Homo sapiens: one gene and its partners. The protein of the gene in region 2 purifies or fractionates together with the protein of the main gene of each other region. This does not show direct contact. Each region holds a gene or a part of one and is shown on either strand. Other genes may lie near its edges.

The links.
Region 1: the proteins of ZSCAN20 (region 2) and ZSCAN18 purify together in Homo sapiens (affinity purification with mass spectrometry; 3 studies listed by BioGRID and IntAct, with this or other methods). This does not show direct contact.
Region 3: the proteins of ZSCAN20 (region 2) and CAPG purify together in Homo sapiens (affinity purification with mass spectrometry; 3 studies listed by BioGRID and IntAct, with this or other methods). This does not show direct contact.
Region 4: the proteins of ZSCAN20 (region 2) and SCAND3 purify together in Homo sapiens (affinity purification with mass spectrometry; 3 studies listed by BioGRID and IntAct, with this or other methods). This does not show direct contact.

The regions. Positions count from the first base shown.
Region 1 is NC_000019.10:58,095,206-58,102,132, forward strand, and holds the start of ZSCAN18 (zinc finger and SCAN domain-containing protein 18), read right to left. Parts: upstream 3,027-6,927; 5' UTR 2,969-3,026; exon of another isoform or gene 2,725-2,968; intron 1-2,724. UniProt on the Homo sapiens protein: May be involved in transcriptional regulation.
Region 2 is NC_000001.11:33,496,645-33,502,171, forward strand, and holds the end of ZSCAN20 (zinc finger and SCAN domain-containing protein 20), read left to right. Parts: 3' UTR 1-4,999; downstream 5,000-5,527. UniProt on the Homo sapiens protein: May be involved in transcriptional regulation.
Region 3 is NC_000002.12:85,407,352-85,414,939, forward strand, and holds the start of CAPG (macrophage-capping protein), read right to left. Parts: upstream 3,016-7,588; 5' UTR 2,966-3,015; intron 2,959-2,965; exon of another isoform or gene 2,931-2,958; intron 2,462-2,930; exon of another isoform or gene 1,210-2,461; intron 1-1,209. UniProt on the Homo sapiens protein: Calcium-sensitive protein which reversibly blocks the barbed ends of actin filaments but does not sever preformed actin filaments. May play an important role in macrophage function.
Region 4 is NC_000006.12:28,584,277-28,591,453, forward strand, and holds the start of SCAND3 (SCAN domain-containing protein 3), read right to left. Parts: upstream 3,023-7,177; 5' UTR 2,442-3,022; coding exon 2,022-2,441; intron 1-2,021.

The DNA of each region.
Region 1 (6,927 bases), on a different chromosome or scaffold from region 2:
TGGTCCTGCAGGCATGTAATTTTGGCTTTCTTAGGACGCCAGAGGCTTGTTCACCTTGCAGAGAACCTGTCTCCACAAAACAAACTGTGAGCTCCATAATGTGTGTGCACAGAACCTTCCCTCATCAGAACCTCACAATCCCAGAGGGGTAGGAACCACATGCAGCCCCAAGGTGCAAGTGGGAAATAGAGGCACGAGGCAGGCAATCACTAAGGCTGGGACCCCACCTGCAAAGTGACGCTGCCACTCATCCTTCCCCGTCCAGGCCCATAAGCCTGCCCTTTAAGAGGCCTCCTGCCGGCCCTCCCCTCTAGCCCTCATGGCCTCCACAGTGGGCAGATCCCAGCCAGCTCCCCCAGCCCCTCTCCTCCTGCTCCAACTTCCCAGCTCTGAGCATGGTGGAGGCATCGGGGTCTAGGTAGAATGAGCAAGGGTCCTCGGCCATTGGCAGGGGCGGGATGACGTGGGGAGGACGGGACACCCTCCGGCTGGGTCACTGGCCAAGACAGTGGGGGACACATGTCAGCCCCTGGGGACAGGAACGGGAGCTCCTCGCCTCTGTGCCCTTCCCCCTCAGCATTACAAGTTGTGAGCCTCTCTGGGAAGCCACCTCTGCCTCCACTTCCTCCATTCACCTGCAAAGCAGAAGCTTCCATGGAACCAGGGGTCTCCTAAAACGCCCAACTCCAAGGAAGCTGCTGCCTCCTGTGAAAACAGCCTCTCCCTGTTCATCTCCCTTCCTACTGGGACCCTGATGCTCACAGCCAGGAGGATGAGGCCATCTCAAGAGCCTCCAGAAATCTCTGGCCCTGTGTCTTCTTGCCTCCTTCAGCCCCATTCCTGGCCACACTGTCAAGAGGACTCTCAGAGATCTCACCGGGGCAGGTGCGGCAGCGTACATCTATAATCTCAGAGCCTGGGGAGTCTTAAGCAGGAGGACTGCTTGAGCCCAGGAGTTGGAGGCTGTGATTGGCCACTGCACTCCAGCCTGGGCGACAGAATGAGCCCGTGTCTCACAAACAAACAAAATAGAGATACCACTGGGACCCTTTCCTGCCACAGCCTGCTTGAATGAGGCCACACCTCGTTGGAGTCTGGCTTGGTCACTGGGCAAACCTCCCTCCCCTAATCTTGGGACTGTCCAGGATTTGCCTCAGATGGGATTTTCCTGGAGCCCAGCCCCCCAGCCTCAGCAAATGAAGCAATCTGCACAAGTCTTGAGCCAGTCCTGTAGGCTTTGCTGCACCCAGAGGCCTGGAATACAGAAGCTGAGGCAGAGAGCTCCACGGTGGGTGAGGGGTGGCTGAGCTGAGGGGTCCCAAGCCTGGTGGGTCTCCAGAGTCCTGCAGCAAATCCCCTTCATCCTGGGCTGAGCAGAGCTCAAGCCTGGTTTGGCCCTCCGTGGGCCCAGCCCTGGCCACCTGAGGAATATTCATCGCAGCTCTCCATCCCACCACACTCATCGGCAGGGTCTAGCAAACCACCCCACAGCCACAGGCCTGAGGATCAGCCAGGGAAGCTCAATGCATGGGATGTGGTTGTTGATGGGTCGCCGGATATTCCCAGGGTCTGCCCTGGCTTCATCCACAGATCACTTACTCATTATAAAAAGGGGTAAAAGTGCTTTTAAAAGAATGAAAAAACATGGAGTAAGGGTCGTCGTTCACATCTCAGCTGCCTTTTGTGGTCCCTGATCCACTCGCCAGGACAGACAGAACCAGAGAGATGTCCTGCGCAACTGGCCTAGGCTCCCCGAAAACCCGAGGCCAGAAATACCCAGGAAGTCACAGATTCAAGCATCATGCACAGAAAACAGCAACTCGATGCGACACGTGGTCCCGCTCTGACTCCAGGGCAGGAAACCATCCGCAGGACATGATGGGATGGGGGAAGTGAAATGGAACCGAGGAGGTGACATGGAACCAAGTGACTGTGCCACTCAGCCTCGCCCAGGAGTCAGCAAGGACACAGGCGAATATATGGGAAAGTGGAAGGAGGGCAGACAGAAATGGGGGAAGCGGGGAGGGAAGGTAGCAGGGAGAGAGAAGACAGGAGAGGAAGGAGCAAGAGCAGGGAAAGCCAGATAGTCTGGACGGGGGTAGAGGGGGATTGGGAAAAGGAAGGAGCCCAGGAGGGTGAGAGAAAGGAAATGGGGAAGGAGTGATGGGAGGGTGAGTCAGGCCCCCACCCCAACCCCCTGGGTCAGGACCGAAGCCAGTACACCCACTCTTGCCTCTTCCACGAGAGAGGTCTCCGGGGTGGGCGCAGACACCTAACTCAAACAGAACCCACCCCCAGGTGACTGGGGAGAGGCGAGATATTCCAAGGGTGGGGGCAGCAGAGACAATGCCCATTCTAGGCACCCCTTTGGTCCCCGCACCCTCCATCCCTTCCCTGCTCCAGCCCCTGGGGCCACAGCCTGCCCAGCGTCCCCCCACCACGGACACCCTCACATCCTCACACCCTCAGCCCCCACTTCCTCCCCTCCTCTTCCCTTCAGGAGCCTCCCCCTCCCTTCTCTTCCCCACTCAGGAGCCTCCCCCTCCCCCTTTTCGCCCCCCTCAGGAGCCTTCCCCTCCCCCCTTTCTCCCCCATCAGGAGCCTCCCCCTCCCTCATCTCTCCCCCATCAGGAGCCGCCCCTTCCTGTTCTCCCACCCACAGGGTGCCCTAAGCGCCTCCCCTCCACGAGCCTACACGGGGTGGGGGTTGCACTAGTTCCCTACCTGCCTGCAGGGCCCCTCACCGATCTGGATCTCAGCCACCTCCGGGGGGACCCGGCCCCTGCCCCGCACTCCACGCGAAGGGATGCCAGACCCTCGGCCTCCTGGACGCACAGCGGGGGCTCGCACCCCAACCCCGGGAACACCCTGGCCCCTTTCCCTAACGCTGCCCACTGAGGCGTCCTCACCGTCTACCCTGTTGGGGTCGCTCTCTGACCCCCGCGCTGCATCCCCGGGACCGACCCACCTGCTGCGCAGCTACCCCAGGCCGGTCCCAGCCGCCCGGAGCCCCAGTGCGCGATGGCGGCCGGCAAACTGCGCCTGCGCACTGGGCCTCACCGCGGACTACGACTCCCACAATGCCGCGAGGCTGTGCCGCGCACCGGGGCGAGCAAGGGAGCCGTGACAGGTGACAGTGCGCATGGCCAATCAGACGCGAGTGTGGCCTCCCGGCGTCCCGCCCACTCCGGCGCCTGCGTCATTTTGGGCACCATGGCAACGAAGTAAACAAGCGGGTAAATAATAGACCCCTGACAGCCAGAGACCCGGAGAAACAAAGACGGTGAGAAACGGAGAAACAAAGACAAAAAGACGCGCAGACCGGGAGGGAGAGAAGCATGAAGGCCCACAGACGCTCGGGGGCAGACCAAGACGCCCTGGGGTCCCCGAAACAGAGATGTACAGAGTCGGACACGGAAAGGGAGAGACCAGCTCACGGTTAAGAAAGGAGGGAGACCAGCCCAGGATCAAGAAAGGGAAAGACCAGCATGGGCTCAAGAAAAGAAAGAGACCAGCTCAGGCTCAGGAAAAGAGAGAGACCCAGAGAAAAGGAGCACTCGAGGCTGAGACAGATCTGGACAGAGATACAGAGACAGGGACCAGCAGACCCAGTACTGGGGAGACAAGAGGTGGAGACCCAGAGACACTGATGCGCTAAAATGGGTTCTACAGTTTCAAGGAGTGGATAGAACTCAAAGATTACCCACCCCAGGGATTCAGGAGCTGCTGAAATGAGGGAAATGTGAGTGGCAGCTGGGGTGAGGGCTTTGGCAAAGCCCCATATAAATGTAGCCCCCCTGGAAGGCAGGATAGGGCCAGGAGCTGCTTCCCATTTCAGTTTTCCAGATAGAGGCGCTTATGAGGATGCCATTTTGGTCGTTTTTGTGTGAACTGATTTTTAAAATGTATATCTGAACAGTTTATATATTTTAAATTTACATACACCACACATTTTGGTATTCAGTTTTATGAATTTTAACTCATATCCACCAACAAACTCGGGACAAAGAATAGCTCCACTGCCCAAAAATCCTCCTGCTGCCTCTTGGTAGTCACTCCCTCCCCACCCATAACCCCAGGAACAGCTAATCTAAGTAGTCCACTGCTACAATTTTGCCTTCACAGTGTCATATAAGTGGGATCATACAGTATGTGGCCTCTTCAGATTGGCTTTTTCACTGAACATAATTCCTTTGAGAGGCATTGAAGTAGTATGTATCAACAGTTCATTCCATTTTATTGAGAAGTAGTATTCTATGGTATATAGCAGTTTAAACCTTCTCCCACTGAGAGATATTAGGATCGTTTTAAGTATTTTGCTATTAAAAATAAAGCTGCTATGAACATTCGTGTACAGATTTTTCTGTGAACGTAAGTTTTCACTTTTCTGGGATAAAAGCCCAAGAGTGCAGTTTCTAGGTCACACAATGAACACGTGCTTATTAGTGTTGTAAGAAGCTGCCACACTCTCATGCAGAGTAGCTGGACCATTTTACACTCCCACCACCAATGAATGTGTGAATCCACTTCACATTTTTATCAGCATTTGTGTTTTGCTATTTTTTATTTTGGCCATTCTGATAGGTATGTACTGATATATCATTGTGGTTTCAATTTGCATTTCCCTTAATTGCTAACAAGTTTGAGCACACTTTAATGATTTTTTTGGCATTTGTATACCCTCTTCATTAAAGTATCTGTTCGTATCTTTTGCCCATTTTCTAATTTTTAAAAAAATTGCTCAGTTTTGAAAGCTATGTTTTTTTTTTTTTTGAGACAAGGTCTCACTCTGTCACTGAGGCTAGAGTGCAGTGGTGCCATCATGAATCACTGCAGCCTTGACCTTCCAGGCTCAAGTGATCCTCACCTCAGCCTCCCGAGTAGCTGGAACTACAGGTGTGCGCTACCATACCCAGCTAATTTTTTTTTTTAAGAGATGGGGTCTCACTATAATGCTAAGGCTGGTCTCAGACCCCCGGGCTCAAGCAATCCTCCCACCATGGCCTCCCAAAGTGCTGGGATTACAGGCATGAGCCACCATGCCCAGTCTTTCCAGTTTATTTTAATGGATATAACTCAGGAACTGCCAAATGGAAGAGATGCACAGCTAAGGTCTGGTCAGGGGCACTGAAGGTGCAGTGCATCCATGTACCGTCTGGGTGAGCCATCCTCCCAGCACTCAGATGTGTTCACCAACCCAGCTCTCTCAATCGTGGGGCAGAGAGAGGGTCCATACCTTCTTTAAGGTGACTATCCCCATCCTGAAGATATCTATGGGTCCCACTGGAGTCACCTCATTAGCATAAACTCAGGTGTGGTCGAAACGGGCTCCTTATGAATTGCAAACCCTATTCCTATTATTCACAAAATTCCAAGGCTTTTAGCTCTGTGCCAGGAACCAGGGATAAAGATCAAATGTAAGGGCCAGGCGCGGTGGCTCATGCCTGTAATCCCAGCACTCTAGGAGGCCAGCGGGCGGATCACGAGGTCAACATGGTGAAACCCTGGCTCTACTAAAAATACAAAAATTAGCCAGGCATGGTGGCAGGTGCCTGTAATTGCAGCTGCTCGAGAGGCTGAGGCAGCTTGAAACTGGAAGGCAGGGGCTGCAGTGAGTTGAGATCGCACCACTGCACTCCAGCCTGGGCAAAAGAGCAAAACTCCATCTAAAAAAAAAAAGAAAAAAGATGAAATGTAGGTTTTATTACACCACAGATGGCCAATTGTTCTTGCACCATCTGGAAAAGGCTATCTTTCCTGCATTGAATAGCTTTTGCTCCTTAAAAAATCAGTCAGGAATATCTTTGCAGGTCTATTTCCGGGTTCTCGATTCCGTTCCACTGATCTATGTGTCTGCCAATACCACATTGGGTTACCACGGCTACAGAGTAACAACATCAGGTGCAGTTATTCCTCCCACTTTTTTTTTTTTTTTTTTTTTTTTTGAGACAGAGTCTTGCTCAGTTGCCCAGGCTGGAGCGCAGTGGCGCGATCTCGGCTCACCGCAAGCTCCACCTCCCGGGTTCACGCCATTCTCCTGCCTCAGCCTCCCGAATAGCTGGGACTACAGGCGCCCGCCACCATGCCCAGCTAATTTTTTTTTTTTTTTTTTTTTTTGTATTTTTAGTAGAGACAGGGTTTCACCATGTTAGCCAGGATGGTCTCGATCTCCTGACCTCATGATCCACCCGCCTTGGCCTCCCAAAGTGCTGGGATTACAGGCATGAGCCACTGCGCCCGGCCACTTTTTTTCTTTTTCAAAGTTATTTTAACTATTCCAAGTCTTGTGCTTTCCCATATACTTTATCTTCTTCTTTTTTTTTTTTTTTTTTGAGACAGAGTCTTGCTCTGTCACCCAGGTTGGAGTGCAGTGATGCAATTTCAGCTCACTGTAAACTCTGCCTCCTGGGTTCAAGTGGTTCTTCTGCCTCAGCCTCCTGAGTAGCTGGGATTACAGGTATGTGCTACCATGCCTGGCTAATTTTTGTATTTTTAGTAGAGACGGGGTTTCACCATGTTGACCAGGCTGGTCTCAAACTCTTGACCTCAGGTGATTCGCCCACCTTGGCCTCCCAAAGTGCTAGGATTACAGGTGTGAGCCACCGCACCCAGCCTTTTTTTTTTCTTTGTTTTTTGAGACAGAATCTCACTCCTAACCATGCTGCTAATATTTACATGGTCCTGCACCAGTGTGTTCATGTAATTTCACATAACTTTTTTCTTTAATTAGGGTTGAGTTTCCTATATAGGCCTTCTAAGCAGCCAGAGATCACACACTTAAATGAGCACCTATTAGCTTCCAGGCATATTATGTTTTCTTTTATAAATAAAAGCCTCAAAATGCACACATGCATACACACACACACGATTACTGACCAAAAGGTATTTCAGTATAAAAGCTAGAGTAGAAGCTCCATAAGGACGGTG
Region 2 (5,527 bases):
TGGGGTCCCTACATTTTTGTCTGTCTGGCTTTTCCTTTTGGCAAGCAGAAGCTTTGTTCTTGGTCCCCATGCCAAGACTGAGGTGGGAGGTGCTGGTGTATATGGTCATCTACTGAGAGGGCCTTGACCACTGTTCTGTGTACCAGGTTCTTGGCACAATTTTACCCTGAGCCATCCTGTCCCAGGCCTGCCCAGGGCTTTCTGTATGTTGACCCTTAAGACTCACCTCCCACATGGACAGGCTAAGTTAGAAAGGTTCACATAGGATGGTTTTAACATTTGCAGCACTTTGGCCTCCAGAGTTTCTCCTTAGAAGGGTTTAAAACTGTTGACCAAGGACTTCGGTTTCCATAGGACTTTAAAGGAAAATCCCCCTCCTGCCATCCTCTTATGACACTAGGATGTATTCATAACCTGCTTGGTTCATGGGCTGGGGAAGTACCTATCAGATAGTGGATGTGAAGCAGCCTTGAAGAATGGAACTTTTATTAACATGTGAGGAAGCCAGTGGAGAGATTTGCTACTCCCACAGAGTGATATCCCTTCTTAACCCCTTCCCCTGCTTCAGAACCTCCTTTCCCAAGAACCAGCCCCACTAGGATCACCGTCAACTCCCTCCCAGTTTACCTTTTCTGGCCCACGTTATCTCTGCGGGGCAGGGGTCATGGGATGAACCCTGGATAGAAGTCAGCAGATGTCAGTAACTGCAGTAATACAGTGATATTGTCTAGTAATGTGAGCTGAGAGGAAGGATCCTGAGGTGAGGGAGAGGGAGGGAATTCCAGGGAAAGGCACTGTTGTGTGGAATAGCATGGATTCAGGGTGGGGTTGTATGATGGGAGGTTGGGAACAGGGAGCTGATATTAGAGGAGTGCTGGAGCAAGGTCACTGAGGACCTCACATGTGAATGGAGTGTCAACACCAGGCCCGGGGCAATGTTCAGATGTGCATGGTTGAAATCTGACAGCTGAATGGAACTTGGACATGCTGCAATTAGGATGGCCTTTTGGGACACTGTTGTGGTATTTCAGCTAAAGGCTAGGGTCTGAACTAGAGCAGTGGTGACACTGAGGAGGAGGGAATGAATGGGAAAGGTCTCAGAGGCAGAGGGGAGGACATCAGAGGAAAGCTAGAATGCCTTTGGTGACTGGGTAGAGCATGTCCTCATTCAGAATTGGGAGCACAAGGAGGAGAGGCTGATAGAGCAGGAGGGCAGAAGATGAGAAGTTTAGTTTGGTATGTCTAGAACTTGAGGTGCTTAAGGGAAATCATGGTGATGCTATGCATTTGGATGTCGGCTAGCAGCTAGGGGAGAGGCTAGGACTAGAGATCTGTGTATGCGAAGTAGTTAAACTAATGAGAAAGGAAGAATTTCAGTTTCAAATATTGGGCCTAGGACAGAGCTACTTGATAGTGCTGAATGGAGAGGAAGATGGCCCTCAAAGGAGATCTAGACCATTCCCCACTCCCACCCACTACCATCATGTTCTGGACCCTGTCTTCTTTGTTACTGACCCCTGAATTCTTCATGTAGCCCTGAGTTTTCTGGAGCCCTCACTGTGGAAGTCAAGCTGAGCTCTGTGTGGATGTGAGGTGGTAGTCCTCTCTCCACTTGGTCACCCTTTCCCCTGGGTTTGGTAGTGTGTTAGTGTCTCATATCTTTAGTGAACAGTTTTGATGTTTATTATCTGCCATTCTTGTCTCATGAATCTTAATAGAGGTTCAGTCATGAAAGCAAGGCCAGTGTGGGCCAGGTGAGAAAATGGCCCAGGTGGTCCCTTCCTCCTTGTCTACCTGACTTCCTTTGGAAGAAGCACTCTTTCAGGGGGCTTCAGTGTTCCAGGCTTGCTGTCTACCCAAGAGCTTGCTGGGCACCCAGGCGCCCTCCAGTAGGTCTGTGCTGCTCAGATAAACTGACATCTGGTTTTACACACCCTGAGCTTTGCTAGCGTGATTCTGCTCTTGGGAAGTAGATTCACTCTGCAGAATGGGTGGACAGTTTCTCAGCCTTCCTGGCCACAGGTCAGACCCTGGTTATGGAAAACCAAACCAGCAAATGCTGCCCTGGGAGGGTGTTACATCATGTGAGCTGCTAAAGGCAGGATCGTCTCCCCAGATGGCTGCCTCCCCTTGATTTCTTCACCCTCCACCTCAAGAAGGGCATTGGCTCCTCTGAAGGGACAAAAAGGTACCTAAAGGACCTTAGGCCTCCCATTCCTCAGACCCCCAGAGGCAGCAGACCCAAAGGTAGGGGCAGGGAAAGGAGGGGCCAAGACTTTTTCAGATACTCGGTTTTTTCTAAGGCCTTGACCTCAGCAGCTGAACTCATGGTCATGGCTGCCTTGGCCTTATTGTCCACTGTAGCCTCCTCCCAGAAGCCGAGTAAAGCAGCTAGGGTCCCTCCATGCTAAATAATGTAGTCAGGCGCTCTGGGTAGTCCGTCCTGCCTCATCTTGTTCTGGGGCCCCCAGTGGGGATAGCTCTCTGCTTTCGGGCTGCAGAAAAGAATTGAGTCACTTTCTGTAGGGGAGTAACACCCTTTGGGGACAGGGGTGCAGTTTTGAAGTAATGAAGGCAGTGATGTCTGGAGTGGGTGTGGGTGTTGCAGGTGAACTTGCCTCACCCAGGCTGTTCTGGGTCTTTGTACTCCAGAGTTCTGTCCTAGGCTTGCTTCTTCATTCACTCTGTTTCCCTTTCTCTTCTTTTTTTCTTTTCCTTTCTTTCTCTCTTTTCTTCTGTGTAGATGCTAATGACTTCCAGATCTGTGTCCTGCTGTGGCCTCTCCTCTTAGGATCCCAGCTGCCTGCCAACCAGCTGTGCTTGGGTGACTCCTGGGCATCTCAAAGCCCCGGTGTCTACCATCACCCATCATGGGGCTCTTGGCCTGCCCATTCAGCACGTGCATTGATGTACACACTCAGTGACTCCCATCCAAGCCTCCCCTGCACGTGCCTGGAGAGACCTGCCCATTGGACTCATCTTGGACTCAGTTCTGCCAATACTTTCTCCCTTCTAAGAGCATTTCCAGTTGGGCTGGAGTTACCCAGCTGCCTGAGAGGTCTCTTTCTGAATGAAGTCAATATCTAAAGTCAAAATTAATCATTCAAAATATTCCCTTACCCCATTTTTTTTGGGGGGGAGATGGGGGTCTTGTGTTGCCCAGGCTGGTCTTGAACTCCTGGCCTCAAGCGATCCTCCCACCTCAGCCTCCCAAAGCTCCCCTTAACCTCAGTTTTGATCCCATCCTCCATTTGGGCATTGCTCAGCTCCCCCACCTGTTAATAGCAAACACCAATCTCAAGCCCCTGCCCCAATCTGCTACAAGGGGTTAGTGTTCCATGCAGTGGGAGTGCAGGGAAGGCTTTACAGGAGAGGAGGGAGTTGAAATGGGCCTGGAGGCCTGGGATGGTAGACACTGGATCCTTTTCCCCCACAGCTCCTGGCTGTTTCTTCACACTCCCAGCATCACTATTACTGCTAGCATGTCTTTAGCATCATTTTGCCCTCCCTCTGACTTTCAGCAAGCCTGCACTTACCTCCAAATAAATGCATGTTTTCGGGGGGCAAAGGCAGGTTCCTTCCTTACCTTATTGTTGCTTCCCCCACCCCATGCTGCAGCTGAGTGGGTGACCTTTCTCCTCACCTCCGTGTGCCGCATCTCTCACCTAGTCTCTGTTAGGAACCCTACAGGAGCCTGCACCCCAGTAACCCCATTTTATGCTGCTTGGAGGAAGAGACAGAGAGTTTGAGAGGTCCCAGTTCTTTTCAGTGTGTGTTTGGTTCCCCCACTTCTCAAAGCTGAGAGCTTCTTTGTTTTAAGAGCCACTTGGTTAAGTCAAGAGCATTAGAAGAGTAAAAAGAAGAATACAATTAGATAATTTTACCTAAACATGCTATAGTCGACTAGGGAGTCACATAGACATTGATTTTCTAATGAGGGCGCTGTTGGTGATTCTTTTTGTGTGTAAAGATGCTTCTGATCATGCCTGCTATTACATGATACTTATTTCTAAAGTCACTTTTTTTTTTTTTTTTACATTTTCATTGTAGAAAAATATCCCATAAAAATTGTGCCCCCTAGAGGGCGAGGGCCACGGGAAGGGGGATCAGGAAAACAAGAATCAGTCTCTAAGCTGGTCCTGGAGCAGCATGACAGATGTATCTGAGCCCAAGCAGGAGAGGAGCCACAGGCCCAGGCTGGCAGAGTTGTGACTACTAGAATCTCGAGTCACTGGGGCTCAGGGAGCCCTAACTTGGTGGCAGGTGACAAATGTGGCACAAAGGAGAAAGGAGTCTTCTCCTTCCACATAGAACACACTTGGCTTCAGTGCTTTGGGGGGATTCGTGGACCACAGAGAAGCTTCCGCATATTTATAGGCACTGGGGACCAGCAGGAAGTGGTGGTGAGACACTTTGAAACCCTCCACTGCAGACTTCACCCAGGGGGCAAGGCAGGAGAGAATCCCTCTGTGGACAGCACTTGAGAGGAAAGGGCTTGTTCATGACCACGTATGAGGTCGCCAACCCAACCCTGTTCCTGAAGTTTCCCAGAAATAGATGGAGAGGTAAGGCCAGCTAGGCTGGAGCGCCAGCATCAGTAGTAGGGGCAGGAGCTCACGCTAAACCCGGTTGGTGTGTCCTGGAGAAGCACAGGTGTCATCTCCAGGGACCTTTCTCGACCAACTAATTTATGGAAATGAGACATTTGTAATTGATTTTAATTCCCTCTTAGGGACTGTGAAATTAAAATGGATTAAATTTTGTCCATCAGGAGCCTCAGGGATTTAATGTCCAATTCTAAAACCTGAACAGGCCCTTTTGTTTTGCAATTTGTGGACCAATCCCTGGCTTCATTTTATTTGGCTTTGCTTTCACTTCCCCATTTTCTGTTATTTTTTTTTTTTTTGTGCTGTTATGTACATCTCTTAAAGCTGGTCAAATCATATTTTGGGATGGAATGGCCTGATAAGTTAATAAATTATATTAAACTGCCAAAAAAGGAATGTGTTTTCGATTCTTCTGGCTTCTTCCTGGTTACACCAAAAGCATGGGGGAGAAAAGGAAGGGAAGTCATCGAGACACAGGTTGTCAGGGAGATTGGGGCCAAGGTCTCAAGCCCCTTGTGCTGGGCAGGTGTCTTCTTTTCATTGTTCCCTGTGGTCCTTCAGACATGGGTGGCTCTTCAGGCATGTCCACAACCCCAGGAGCCATGGCCTCAGTGGCCGGTGCAACTGGCCGGAGCCACAGTGGCTCCGGGTGTCGGGGCTGTCCTTTTGTCCCTTTGATCTTACGCAGGGTGAGGGAGCCAATCACGAGAGGCTCACCCCTGACGTCACCCAGTCCCCAGGGCCAGTGAGGGCCCTGCGTTCCATGGGGCCCCCTGGAGGGAGGAGTGGCATCTCAGTCTGCTGGTCCCTATGCATCTACTTTGATATGTCCCTCAGGATCCCTGTGCTAGGAAACCAGAGGTGTCTGAAATCCAAATAACACAAGGATAATTATGGATGAAAACATAGGAAAGAGTTCC
Region 3 (7,588 bases), on a different chromosome or scaffold from region 2:
GTGAATTCTGTCCAGAACAGTGTCAAATGCTCACCTGCACATTAGAATCATTTGGGGGCTTTTGAAAAACCCCAGTGCCAGCCAGGCATGGTGGCTCATGCCTGTAATCCCAGCACACTGGGAGACTGAGGTAGGTGGAATGCTTGAGCTTAGGAGTTCAAGACCAGCCTGGGCAACATGGTGAAATCCTGTCTCTACAAAATATACAAAAATTAGCTGGGCGTGGTGGCGCACACCTGTCATCCTAGCTACTTGGGAGGCTGCAGCACAAGAATTGCTTGAACCTGGGAGGTGGAGGTTGCAGTAAGCCGAGATCACACCACTGCACTCCAGCCTGGGTGACAGAGTGAGACTCTGTCTCAAAAAAAAAAAAAAAAAAAAGTAATTTACAGAAAAATAAGAAAGAAAAACCCCAGTGACTAGCTTCCATATTGGACTCATTAAAACCAGACTCTCTAGGTGGAGCCTGGATGTCAGTGTTTGAGAAGCTCCAGATGACTCTAATGCTTGGTCAGGGTTGAAACTCCTGCTGCCTCATTAGATCTCTGTCCCGAGACCTTTTGTTCCAGTCTCTCCTGGGGAAGGGTCCACCCTGACCTCTGGCCTTTCATTCTTTCCCCTATCCCAGCCCTCTGTCCAAGCCCACAGCTCCTTGAGCTTCCTCAGTGTCCATGTTCACCCTTACATCCATTAAAGCCCCCTCATCCTAGGCTGGGCACAGTGGCTCATGCCTGTAATCCCAGAACTTTGGAAGGCTGAGGCGGGTGGATCACTTGAGATTAGGAGTTCAAGACCAGCCTGGCCAACATGGTGAAACTCCATCTCTGCTAAAAATACAAAATTAGCCAGGCATGGTGGTGCGTGCCTGTAGTCCCAGCTACTTAGGAGGCTGAGGCAGGAGAATTGCTGGAACCCGGGAGGCAGAGGTTGCAGTGAGCCGAGATGGCACTACTGCACTCTAGCCTGGGCAACAGAGGAAGAATCTGTCACACACACACACACACACACACACACACACACACACACACAAGCCCCCTTATCCTTCCAGGCCCGTATCAAGCCCCAGCTGTCCAAGGAAACTTCCAGGACATTAAGTGGCCTCCGCCTTCTCTGGGAGTTCTCCCAGCCCTCTCCCCTGGGAGCACATACTTTAGCCTGTTTTATAGCATAAACTGGCTGCTTCACATCTCAACTGGAGCAAGGACACACCTGATGCCTCTGTTCCTCAAGCAGCCCAGCAAAGAGTCTATTCCATTCCACTCAACGTCTGTGCTGGGGGCTTGGCACTGGGGGTGACATGCACAGAGACAAAGAATAGCCCATGTTTTATGGTTTAGCTGCAGGGTGCAGTGAACAAGGGAGCCACCATACCCAGTGAAACCGCAGACGAACTTCCTCTAAGTGGGGAATGTCACAGAATCACAGATGTCAGCATTAGAAAGTGCTAAAGTTGAAGAGGGGAGCTGGGGCCGGGGGGGAGGAATAAAACAAAAAAAAGAAAGCGCTAAAGTTCTTATCTAGTCCTGCTCTGCCTGCACCGCCCTACACATACCCATACACGCATAGTGCAGAAATCTCTTCTATAGCATCCCTTACCATCCTCTTCTTGAAGGCTTCCAGTGATGGGAAACTCACCACCTTACCAAACAGCCTCTTCTACACCTCTTAAAGCCTTTACTTTTCCCCACTCTGCCATAGTGTGGTGAGTTATGGACCCGCCTACCTCCACTACTACACTGTAGGGTCCTTTAGGGCAGGAAGTGTATTTTGCCTCTGGATCTAGCTGGAACCTCATGCAGGTGCTCAAAGAATGCATTTGATTAACTGGACCTGCTGGGCTCTGATTATTAGACTGGGGTGGCACCTAAGGGATAGCCCAGGATTTCAAAAGGCTGGGACAGGCTGGAGCAGCCCCAGGAGGCAGAGAGCAGGGGCTAGGGGTCCCAGACTGCCATGGGGCTGGGGGAGGGGAGGACGCAAGTCCTGCTGGCTGTCCCATGGTCCTGACTTAGGCTGTCTTTGAGGACACACTGGGGGACCTCGGAGAGGAGGTCACCGTTACACACACCTTTAAGGAAAGACTTGACAGCCATCAGAGGGACAAAAATCCTGCCGGGGTCCAGTGGTACCTTTGCCTTCCTCAGACCCTGATTCCACTGACCCCCAATAGGTCTCTTCCCTTCACAGTCCCTGCTTGCCCCTAGGTGTGAAATGAAACAGCACCTCCACTTCTCCTGGTGGAGGTAGGTGCCCACCCTCGAAACCAAACTGAATCTCCCAGCCTGGGACATGGCATTCTCAGAATCTAGGTCCAGAGGCCTCATTTGGGGATTCCAAATGGTTTTTCCCCTGATACCAAATAGGTCTCCTACCCTTCCCCAGGGTCAACCACTTCCTCCCTCCCCACCTCCTACCTCAGACAGTCCACCTAGACCCTCAGCCAAGGTCTTCCAGAGTTTGCAAAATAATCAAATGTGCCACTTGCATTTGAATTCAAATGGCTAGGACTGCCCTGCCCCCTCCCCAAGCCACTCCCACCCAAATAGCATCACACCACAGTCCTGTCTTGGGGACAGGCAGCTTCTAATCTGATTTCACCTCCAGTCTGGCTGAGGGCCTTCAGGAGCAGTGTGGTGGCCTCCGTCAGGAGGTCTGGCACAGCTGGGACAAGCCCTGACCCAAGAGTTCCTCCATGTGCAGCATGGGCACAGCCCACCCATCCTCCCGGGCAGCTTCACAGCTGCCATCAGATCAGGTGCCTGGAGCCTGGCATAAGGCTGGCAGGACAGCAGGCTGGGGGAACTCCACCCTGGCACAATGTGGTATCCAGAAATGTGGGTCTCTGTTCCCAGGCCACCACAGCCAGCCCTCGCCTGCCCACCCAGGAGGGTACCAGCCAGCCGCGCTGGCAGCCACCCTGCCACCTTCACCTTTCAACACTCCTACTTTCCTTTCTTCCTCCTACCTCTGCTTCGTAGGTTCGTCTTCCTTCCAGCCTGCCCCACCCGGCTTCTCACTTCCCTCTTACTTCTCTGGCTGCCCCAACCACCAGCCCCACCCACCAGCCCCACCCCTGGGCTCCTTCCCCAGCCGGTGTGGAGGCGATGTCCCCCGACAGGGAGGGGCAGGCAGTGCTGGGAGGCCAGCAGGCCTGAAGCAGAAGAGCAGTCACTGGGGTGGGCAGTGGGTATGCCAGGCCGTCTCCTCAGAGGGGCACACAGGGAGGCTGGAGGTCCACACAGCCCCACCACAGTGGCCTCAGCCCGCTGCAGGTCACAGCCAAGGCAAATCAGGGAGGGCATCTCTGAGTCTGAGACCAGCAAGGAAAGCCATGTTCTCCATTCAGGGCCTGGGGCAGGCGCGGCACAGCCCCCACCGCTGCTGGGTTAGTCACATTTTCTGGGCAGGGTCACTGGCTTCACATTACTTTTTCCTCCTCCCTCAGTTTGTCTTTCTCCTTGCCCTGAATGCAAGTATTTGATTTTTTTTAAGATCAGTTTTTTGGTTTTTTTTGTTTTTTTTTTTTTCCTGAGACAGGGTTCACTGTCACGCAAGCTGGAGTGCCGTGGCATTATCACCGCTAACCGCAGCCTTGAACTCCTGGGCTCAAGCGATCCTCCTGCCTCAGCCTCCTGAGCAGCTGACACCACAGGCCTGCACCAACATGCCCGACTAATTTTTTTATTTTTTCTGGAGACAGAGTCTTGCTACTCAGGCTGGTCTAGAACTCCTGAACTGAAGCAATCCTCCCACTTTGGCCTCCCAAAGTGCTGGGATTACAGGCGTGGGCTACTGCACCTGGCTAAGCTCAGTTCTCAGGGAATGGCTGAGGCCATAAAACATTCTTCACCATCTTCCGCATGCCATGCTGATGCCTCTCAGGTCTCTACCCTTTGGTCTGCTTCTCATTCACCAGATGTTTATCATCATGACTTCTGGGCCCTGGGCCCTCTGAGAGACAGCCCATCCTGGGTTGACCCAGGGCAACTATCCTGCCTACATCACAGTCACTAGACCCTAGAGCTTGTCTCCTCCAACTCGCTGGCTTTCTGGAGGACACCGAGGTCCTGAGAGCACAAGAGACTGCCCACAAACACACAGGGAGTGGAAGCCCCTGCAAGGGAGGCTCCCATTCCCTTCTGAATCCCTGGGGGAAGGATGAGCGGACTCAGTATGAGGCTCCAGGAGAAAGTGAGCACCCAGTTATGCAGCCACACAAGCGTAGTTCCTCTGCCCAGAACCTAGCCGGCCTGTCCTGGAAAGGTATTGGTCAGCAGGCTGGCTTGAGACAAGGCTCCAGGTTCAGGGTCAAGGCCTGGGGACCCTGGAGCAAAATCTGGAACAAATCTTCCTAATTAGCAGACCTTCAAACAAAACCTCATTATTTGACTGCGTGGGAAAAGTCTGGAGAAAATACAGTACTGGATAGGCTGGGCATGGTGGCTGTCTCCGGTAATCCCAGCACTTTGGGAGACTGAGGCAGGCAGATTACCTGAGGTCAGGAGTTCAAGACCAGCCTGGCCAACATGGTGAAACCCTGTCTCTACTAAAAATACAAAAATTAGCCGGGCATGGTCATGGGTGCCTGTAATCCTAGCTACTGGAGCGACTGAGGCAGAAGAATCACTTGAACCCAGGAGGCGGAGGCTGCAGAGAGCCGAGATGGCGCCACTGCACTCCAGCCTGGGAGACAAAGCAAGACTCCATCTCAAAAAAAAAAAAAGCAATACTGGATGAATGTTTCTCATTGAAACGAAATTGATAAAATTTCACTAGAGCAAGACGGGAAGTTAAATCTTCTCCCCAAAGAACATGGCCTGTAGCTAGCATCCAAGTGTCTCCATGGCCAAACTGCCAGGCTTAAAAATAGGGTAATATGGGCCGGGCGCGGTGGCTCACGCCTGTAATCCCAGCACTTTGGGAGGCCAAGGCGGGTGGATCATGAGGTCAGGAGTTCGAGACCAGCCTGGCCAGCATGGTTAAACCGCCATCTCTACTAAAGACACAAAAAATTAGCCGGGGGTGGTGGCGCATGCCTGTAATCTCAGCTATTCAGGAGGCTGAGGCAGGAGAATCGCTTGAACCCGGGAGGCAGAGGTTGCAGTGAGCCGAGATTGCGCCATTGCACTCCAGCCTGGGTGACTGGGCAAGACTCAGTCTCAAAAAATAATAATAATAACAATAATAATAGGGTAGTTTGGTGGAGGGTGGGAGGAGGGAGAGATTCAGGAAAATAACTAATGGGTACTAGGCTTAATACCGGGGAGACAAAATAATCTGTACAACAAAGCCCCATGACACGAGTTTACCTATATAACAAACATGCACATGTACCCCTGAACTTAAAAGTTTAAAAAAGAAAAAAAAGGATAGTCTGGGTGAGAATCCCAGTAGGGCCTAGTCCCCACAAAACCACAGGCTGGGCGGTTAACCTGGTAGAGTGATAAGAGCTAGACAATTTGGCTCCTTACTAGCTGTGCAAGTGACTTAACCTCCTGGAGCCTCCCTGTGCCCCAATCTGTAACACGTGCATACAGTTAAATGTGAAGATGAAATGAGATCCTATGATTAATGAGCAAATAATACATGCTCGATAAACCCAGACTTCTTTCTCTTCCCTTTAGTTTGCAATGTGCCATCAGCACCTGAGGTAGAAATGTGCCTGGCCACTCCCCTAGCTCCCGGTTTCTCCACAGGAGGAAAGAAAGTTAAACCACAGAGCACTCTCCTATTTCCATCCCCAGCCCCAGCGCTGGAAAGCTTCATAGATTTTGGTCACAACAGCGCATACCTTGGGTGGCTCTTAAGTTCTGGACTCTGTGACCCACGGAGGGAACAAGGATCAATGGGAATCACTGTTCCTCACACTCAGCTGTCTAGGCTAAAGCCTCTCCTATCACCACAGGAAAAAAGGGGAGAGGTTTACACATTAACAGCGAAACAACTGGCTGGGCGCAGTGGCTCACGCCTGTAATCCCAACACTCTGGGAGGCCGTGGCGGGCGGATCACCTGAGGTCAGAAGTTCGAGACCAGCCTGACCAACGTGGCGAAACCCCATCTCTACTAATAATACAAAAATTAGCTGGGCGTGGTGGCGGGCGCCTATAATCTCAGCTACTCGGGAGGCTAAGGCAGGAGAATCGCTTGAACCCGGGAGGCGGAGGTTGCGGTGAGCCGAGATCTCGCCACTGCACTCCAGCCTGGGCAATAAAAACAAAACTCCGTCTCAAAAAACAAACAACAACAACAGCGAAACAAAAGGGCCGGTCGCTCAGCCTAGGACTCTCGGGAGCGGCTAGGAACTCAATGCACATGCTAATGAGTTATCTGGTAACGACGCTCTAGAACTAGTTTTTTTACCAGACGCACAGTGTTCCTACCCTTGTGGTCTCCCCTGAGCACTACTGCTTAGTTTGTCCCAAATGAAGTAAAATAAAGTATTTCTTTAGCACGGACCCACCCTCTCCCGCCTTTTCTTACAGGAAGCCAGGAGACGGCGCGCCCCTAAGAGAGGACCCCGGCTGTGGGAGAAGAGGAGGGAGCGGGGCGCCCCCGAACCGGCTAAGCCCGTTCGACCCCTACATGGGGAGCCCAGGTCCCCGGCGACCGGACCCCGAAGCGCACTACTTGCCTGCCAACGCCTTGCTCCGAGGCCCTGGGCGCTGTCTCAGCCGCCCCCCGCCCCCTGGAGGTGCGCGGCCAGGAGCCGCCCCCGGTGAGTCAGAGGGAGGGGCCCGGCCGGTCTGAGCTGGCGGGGAGCCCCTATGGGAGGCTGGGGCGCCCGAAAGGGTCCTAGAATTGGGCGTGGGAAGGAGGGTATAGGGGAAGCTAAGGACAAGCTTACTGTGCTGTAAACTTTGCGAGAGAATTGCAGTGTTCACTTCCATTCAATCGTTAGGCCCCCGGCCTCAATCACCCTGTGAACAGCTACTGTTCTGTGAGAGCCTACTATGTGCTTGGTGCGTCCTCACATCTACTATCATTATTCCTGCTGGAAACATGAAGTCTTTGGGAGGCTCAGAGAGGGTAACTAACTTGTCCAGAGTGTCACATTGCTAGTTCAGTAGCAGAACTAAGATTTTTTTTTTTTTTTTTGAGACAGGGTCTCACTCTGTCGCGGCACCTGGAGTGCGGTGCTGTGATCACAGCTCACTACAGCCTCAACCTCCCAGGCTCAAGCAATCCTCCAGCCTCAGCCTCCTGAGTAGCTGGGACTGCAGGCATATGCCACCACGCCCAGCTAAACTTTTTTTTTTTTTTGGAGAGACTGTGTCTCACTCTATTGCCCAGGTTGGTCTCAAACTCCTGGGCTCAAGTGATCCTCCTGCTTTGGCCTCCCAAAGTGCTGGCATTATAGGCATGAGCCACCGCACCCAACTGCTGAACCAGGATTCTAACCCAGGCTGATCTGACCTGCAACACCTGACCCTTCTCTTCTTTATTCAGAGGAAAACAGGCCAGCAAGCATCTGCACCAGGAGGCCAGGCCTTCTGGAAATGTGTTGGACAGCGATGGGTCCACACTTCCGCCTTGGCTCCTGAATGTGGCATAGCCAACCCATGAGAGATGTCAGTTGACAAAGAGCAT
Region 4 (7,177 bases), on a different chromosome or scaffold from region 2:
GAAAGCTCAGTGACTACTGGAGGGTGGCTTGGTGTATCACTGAGAATTATAAGAATTTTAAAAGACAATTTTTTTCTCTTGCAATGTTTTATTTTTTTTTAATCTACAAAAAAATCACCCGAAAGATCAGAAAATATCTGCCCTGTCATCTAGTCTCTCTTGCTAGACCTGTAGTAGGCACCAAGGCTAGTCTTTACAATTCATTTTAAAGCTTATAGATTGGCAGAATGATAATCACAGGCTTTAGCTTTAAAATTCCACTGGCATTTGCACCCAGCATCACCATCAGTTGATCCTTTGTAGCCTTAAACCCCACAGTGTGTTTCTAGAGTACTTCCAGTCCTGCTTACTCCATTCTGGATCAATGCATCCAAATTCTCCACATATCCCCTTGAGGGCATCTGCTTCCAATAGAGACTGGTTTCATAAAAAGTAAAAATCTGAGCCAGGGGATGGCCTTCCTTATCAATCTAATTTCTTAATGAGGGGAAAATGTCTTTGCAGCTTCTTCATCTGCACTTACAGCCTCGTCTGCACAGACAGTTTAACACTGTGGAAAGTACAGTAGTTCTTGAAGATACTAAACCAGCCACTACTTCCACTAAATGAAGGCACTTCTGCGGGACTTCCATCTTTTTTTCTTAATGTCTCCATACATTGTGAAGGTATTTTCTTTAACTCTGAGAAAGACTGCATTGGATTGCTTCCTTGTTTGGTATTCAATCCACACACTTAACAAATGCTCCATTTCCTCCATTTCCTTATTCCTTGTTCCAACAGATTTCATAACACTGGCAGTTGTTCCAGCTAGATAATTTTATTTTTCCCATCATTGTCTCTAATTGTACATACATTTACTCCTTTATGCCAGTTGCATGACCAATCTCACAGTTTCTTTTCTTTCAAAACACTGTATAGTTTCAAACTTGTCTTCAATTGTTAAAGCTTTTCTTCTTTTATACTCACTAGCAGAAATTTTATCACAAGCACACTTCTATGGCACTTGCAAAACCCTCTGCTTGCTCCTTTTCTGGAATACAAAAAACTTTAGCAAAAAATACACAAAGATGGGAGGGAACAATGTAAATAAGTGCTTCCAAGACAGCCAGAGGAAGGATGTGGGGGCAAATGGGAATTATGTACAGTACTGTATGTATTCAGGACTTGCTGTGCTCAGCTACATCAGATACTCTGAATTCAGCTACTCCCACCTGGTGGCCCCAAACATCAACTTGCTGGGAAAACTCATACATGAGCTTACACAATTTCAGCATTATACTGACTCATTTCTGGCATACTGACCTCATTTTAAAAGATTTTGCATTCCAGAAACATGCGTTTTTAACAGATCAGACTGTATACATAAAGGGTTCACATTCTGAAAGAGTTCAGATAAATGTATGAATAGTATCACTAAAAAATATAAGAATGTCTGGCAATATCCACAATGTTCTAAAATTACTGTCAAAGAAGGCAAATATACTCCTTTAGAAACAACTCCACTGTAATGGCAAAAAGCTTTTAAAATTCTTCTAAAAATAATTTTGAGCTCAAAACATTTTACATACCAACTCTAGATACTGAAAAGAACCAAGGAAATCATGCAATTAGTATTTTCATTGTACAGATGAAGACATTAATGTCCCAGAGAAGGTGTAATATGCCCAAGGTTACACAGCTAATTAGTAACAGAGCCTAGATAGCTTCAAAAGACAGTAATTTTTTAAAAAAAATTTACTATTGTATATTTCTTTAATCTCATAGTCACTACATAAAATATATTTTCTACTGGTAAAAAATAGATCAAGCTTTTCCATTTGGTTAAATCATTTAATTATTTGTATCATACACAAAAACTGTTATCTCATATGCACGCATCTATTCATCTACACCAGTGATCAAATAAGAAATAATGCCCCAAACCAGGGTTTCCAACCACCAGCGCGAAATTACTCCCATTACTCCATTCTGGATCCATGCACCCAAATTCTCCACAGAAGATGGCACCTCCAATTTCTCACCTGCTGTCTAGGTTCATCAAGCTCCCTCTCCAAATCTTCCAGCAAAGTCACCACCTCTTCTCCACTCTCAGGATTATGCTCCCGCACCCAAGACTGGAGCTCCTCAGGCAGGATGGTCAGGAACTGCTCCAGCACCAACAATTCCAGGATCTGCTCCTTGGTATGTATCTCTGGGTTCAGCCACTGACGGCAAAGTTCCCGCAGTTGACTCAGAGCCTCCCTGGGCCCAGGTGTCTCCTGATAGCAGAACTGCCTGAAGCGCTGACGAGAGAGTTCCCTGGTATAAGACAAATTCCTACGTAGGGCTGATTCCTGATCCCAAGTGTGGTCTTCTTCTTTAACCTTTACTTTGATAATCTCCCCTTGTTCTTCTGGAGCCTGGCCAGCCAAGGCTGGGAAGACCCTAGAGACTGCTTCCATCCCGAGCTTAGACAGCTCAGGCAAAGGTTCTCTCCAGTTGGGGTCTAGGCAAATGGGTGATTTTACTTGAGCTCCTTTTTTGTTCTTGGTCAGGAAAGTTTTTGATATAAGAAAACACTCAACACAGGACAACTACAGACTCAGTTTAAAAGGACTTGTTTACGTGACAACACAGGGCAGTTACTCGGGCAATTCCATTGAAAGTGAAGCCATCCTCTGAAAAGACCAGAAATAGTGAGCACAGAGCGACTCACTAAAGCTTCAGGGTCACAAATTGAGCGGCAAGATACTTGCGAGACAGAAAACCGAGGTTATGACGGATACTTTGGCCCTAAATAAAGCCTGGGTGTATGAGCCTAGGCAAGGAAACGAAGATCGGAGCAGCCTGGGCGAGGGCGGAGAGGGAGAGGGGCTCACAAGCTGCCTGGGGAAGAGGCCCGATTGTCGCCGCGCACATGCACCCTTCCCTCGGCCGCAGCTCCCACCTCTGAGGAGCTCAGACCCTGTGGAACCCAGACTAGTGGGTCGAGGGAAACACTCTACAGCTCAGGTGGAGGTTCCGCAGACACACCCGCAGCTGTGCCCGTAGGTTCCGGCCGGGCCCGGTGAGCCACGCTCACTTCCGGTCCGCTCTAGGATTCCAGGTGGTGCCGTCTTCTCACTGGTTGTGCAAACACCTACGGTACCAGTAATTCTGGGGAGGCAAGTACTCTGGAAACGACGGAGAATTAACTCCGGAATTACCTAGTTATCTGGCATCACGGTGAAAAGAGTTCCACAGTGTGAGTAGTGCTGGAGTAGATGCTGCTGGTCTGTGTTTTCCTGTCACCGTGATAAACCATCGCTGGCACTCAGACCCGTGGTGCTCACCGCAGCGACCTGAAACAAAATGGAGAGGAGCATCCCTAAGGACTACCACGTCAGCGAATCTGTAGGATCGTCCCCCGCCTTTCCTCGTTAATTTCGGGCCACTTTCACCTTTCCCTTTCACCCTAAATCAGACTTAAAAAGAAATGTAAGAGTTAGTCCATTGTTTCCATTTTACGGATTAGAAAACCAAGACCACCGAGAATGAGCCTCAGTTGTTTAGTCACGGAGCACAGAGCCGTGACTAAACAACTGTGGGAAACTGGTCCCAGAAATCTAACAAAATCTGGACGGCTGATCAGCGCCTAGCGAATCACTGGAGTGGAGTAACCAGAACATTCTTTTCAAGCAGTCACTGGGTTCCTCCATACCTCTGGTAGCGCAGAGATGCCCAAGGAATATTTGTTGAATTGCTGCCTGGTTCCCTTCTCCATTCTCTGTTTCCTTCTGCTGTGGTCCTCATGTTGATTTCTCACATTTTGGCATTTCTGAGTAGAGAGTCTTTGAATAATCAGAACATCTCTTTTAGAAATCTCTAAATAAAAAAGAAATCTTACGCTTAGAGTCCGTGAATGGTCTTGAGTAAAATTCTGTATAAAATTTTTGTCTGTGTGCCTGTGTCATCCAACCCTGAAAAGATCATTTTCCCAGTCACTTTTAACGTGCTGAACTTATCTTTTGTTTCCCCCCCTAACTATCCTTTGCAATCAGGGATTCTACTACCTTTTTCTCATTCTGCAAGGCAGTGATCTCTGCCATGCTGAGCACAGTAGGCAGTTAACATGGAGTAAGCATGACTTCTAAGTCCTTTACTGACGAGCCTTACTGTTTTGTTTGTTTTGTTTTGTAGATTTGCATTTGTTAATTACTACAACAGTGATAGACACTTATAAAAAAAGTCAAATATTTAAAAAGTCAACGTGGCAAGAAGTGAAGTTTCTTCATCCTCAGTTCCATTCCTCAGAAAAATTGATGCCGAGTTTGTTGTATGTACCTCCAACCTATTTTTAAAATGTACATACAAAATTGAGTACAATATTATTATGTACAAATATAACTGAGTCACAATTATAACTCATTATAATTTGCAAAACTTAAATCATACTAGACTACAATTCACCAAGTTACTGGGCTTTTTTGGTTTGTTTTAAACTTAAATCCTCCCCCAGAAACTGCCAAGCCAACATGTGTTACATGTCTATCCCATTCTTTTTAGTGGCTGTAGAAGAGACTATTTTGATAGATATTGCTAAAAGATCTGCACCCCAGAGGGATGTTTATCGTGAGTCTCGCTAAAGTGTGTTAAGATCCTTTCCTTGCGCTGTGCTTTCCAAGGCCTTGGGAAGAGGTTGCTCTGTATGAAACATATTTTGTAAGATTTGCAAAAGTATGCTAGTATAGTGAAAATTAGTTAAGACAGCTTCCTCTCCCTACTCCAGCTTATCCTCAGATACATCATACAGGCCTTAGAGTACCCATAATTTTATGTTGATAACAGCTGTTCTTTTTCTTAAAGAGGACTTTCTAAATTGTTAAGTTTCAGACCTCACAAATCTGCCCCGGTTGATTTCTGGAAGCTAATTTATGCTCCCAACAAAAGCGCAGGAAAGAGTGAAGAGATCTCCCTGAATTTTATTTTGACAGTTACTCCTTCTTCAGCAGCAAAGCGTCAGCTTTCCTGTCAGCGTGAGTCTCACTGAAGCCTGACCTAACTCTTTCGGATCGGAACTAGAAAGTTTATTATCAAGGAGGTATTTAACCACGACTATACTTACCTACTGTACCCTTGTGGTTGGTCCCATGGTGTAATGGTTAGCACTCTGGACTTTGAATCCAGCAATCCGAGTTCGAATCTCGGTGGGACCTTTCAAAGGTGAACGTTTTACAGTTCCTGGCTTGGCCTCTGAATGTGGGAAAAATTCGTTCCTCCGCTTCCCATCGAATTCTCGTCGAAAACAACTTTGTGGTCGCGTGCACGGTATTGAACTCTCCCCTTCTATCCAAGCATGAAAGTACCAAGCTCTTTCGCCTAGAAGAACGCTTTCAAAGCGTATCAAATTCACGGGTTTGGAGACAAAGAGAAAGATGCTGCTCTTATCGACTTACGAAAAGCTCCAGCAGCAACGTGGAAACCCAATTCCTGTGATGGAGACAAACGCTTCCTCAAAATTTCCTAGGTTCGAAGCCCTCCTCGCTGCCACAACCAAGTCCTGCGTGTAAAGTGGCTGAGCCTTGGTCTCGGGCGTGTTTCTTTTGTTTGTTTTTTTGTTTGTTTTTTTTTTTTTTTTTCGCTGTGGACCTTGCGCCCCGGGTTACTTCTCGCCCCTTTTCCCTATCCCCCATCTTGATGAGACAATTCACCCTCATCTGCTTTCTCTAGTCCCCTGTACTTCTTAGTCTCTCCGCTCACCCCGACTGCAACGTCTGGAAATCCCTCCAAAGCCAGCAGCCCCGGAGGGCTCGGGTCCCTGGTATCCACGGCGTCGAGTCTTCCAGCCGGAGAGAAAAACTCACCTAGGACCGGACCTGGGCCTCGCCGCGCTGGGAGCTGGCATTCCCAATTCAGGACCAGACACGGTGGAGGGGCCCTACAACTTGTGTGGGAGACAAGGGAGATGGGGGTAAAAAGACCTCTGCCTTCAGCCGTTCGCCTGGCATCTCGCCTCTTCAGCTCCTAGTACCAGGGTGAAAGGAGGGGGCTCCCTGACCGAGTCCTCCCCAGACACTACCAAACACTCGGTCCGAAGCATCCGGGAAACAGTCCCTTGGAGCTGAAGGTCAAGAACAGAAAATGTAGCCGCTATCTTGCCTCCCCTGAACTGTGTGTGTAGACGAGGATTGAATTGGAGATAGAGTTGATGAAACCCGGAAGGTCTGGAAAATTCCTTATAGACACTAATTTAGCTGTTAGAATGAGGTGGGAAATGTGAGGTGTCAAGGTGAGGGAAAGGTGTGCCCTAGAGGACAGAGAGGACAAGAACTAAATTAGAAACAAGTATTTGTGTTTCGTACAAATTAATCTCTTCTATGATGTAAGAGACAACCTTTAAATCCAATTATTTATTTTCAGATTTCTTACTTTGACATTTTGATTTTCGCATACATACCAAAAAACCAAATCGAATCCTACTTTCACCAAGTCCATTAAACCATTAATAATTCATTAGCTCATATTTTGAATTACCATTGGTTACACAGAGACTCTGTAACTAAGTTTACAAAATTCATGAAAGCATTATTTTGGCTCCCGTTATGTGTGCTTGATTGTACTTCATATGGTCTGTAATGGTGCTAATTGCAGAGGGAAATAACATTTTCTTGTGGTGTTGCCTTAGCTAGTGTGGCCCCACCTTCTTTCCACTTTGTTGATGTTAGCGTGATGAGATCTCACCCAAAGTGTTCTCCCTTTTCCTAATGGCCTAACAGCCTCTTCTGCCTGTTTGGGATGCTTATAAGTCCAGCCATCCTTCCGACCAACACCATAGCCTGCCTGTGTTACTGTAAGTAATCATTATGATCACATCCATCGTCAAGCATCCACTTATCCTAGCTCAAACCAGTAACTCAGACTTTATCCCAAGCCTCTAAATTAAGGTAATGGACAAGACCTGATTGGAGATGGTGCCTGCACAACGTGACCCAGAACTGAACAGAAGGCCAAGGAGCAGCTGCTATGAGGAGGCGGAAGCAGCCACCAACACTGGGAGAGGCTGGGAGCATATGTAGATGCTCCCCCTGATGCCTTACATGTTCTGTGGGTCTACCAATTCCTTTAGGAAGCTGAGGAAATTCCCGTGGGTATTTATAAAAACTCCACCCTTGAACAAACTTTAGTTAGGTTCCTCTGAGCCCTCCTCTCAACTAGGTCC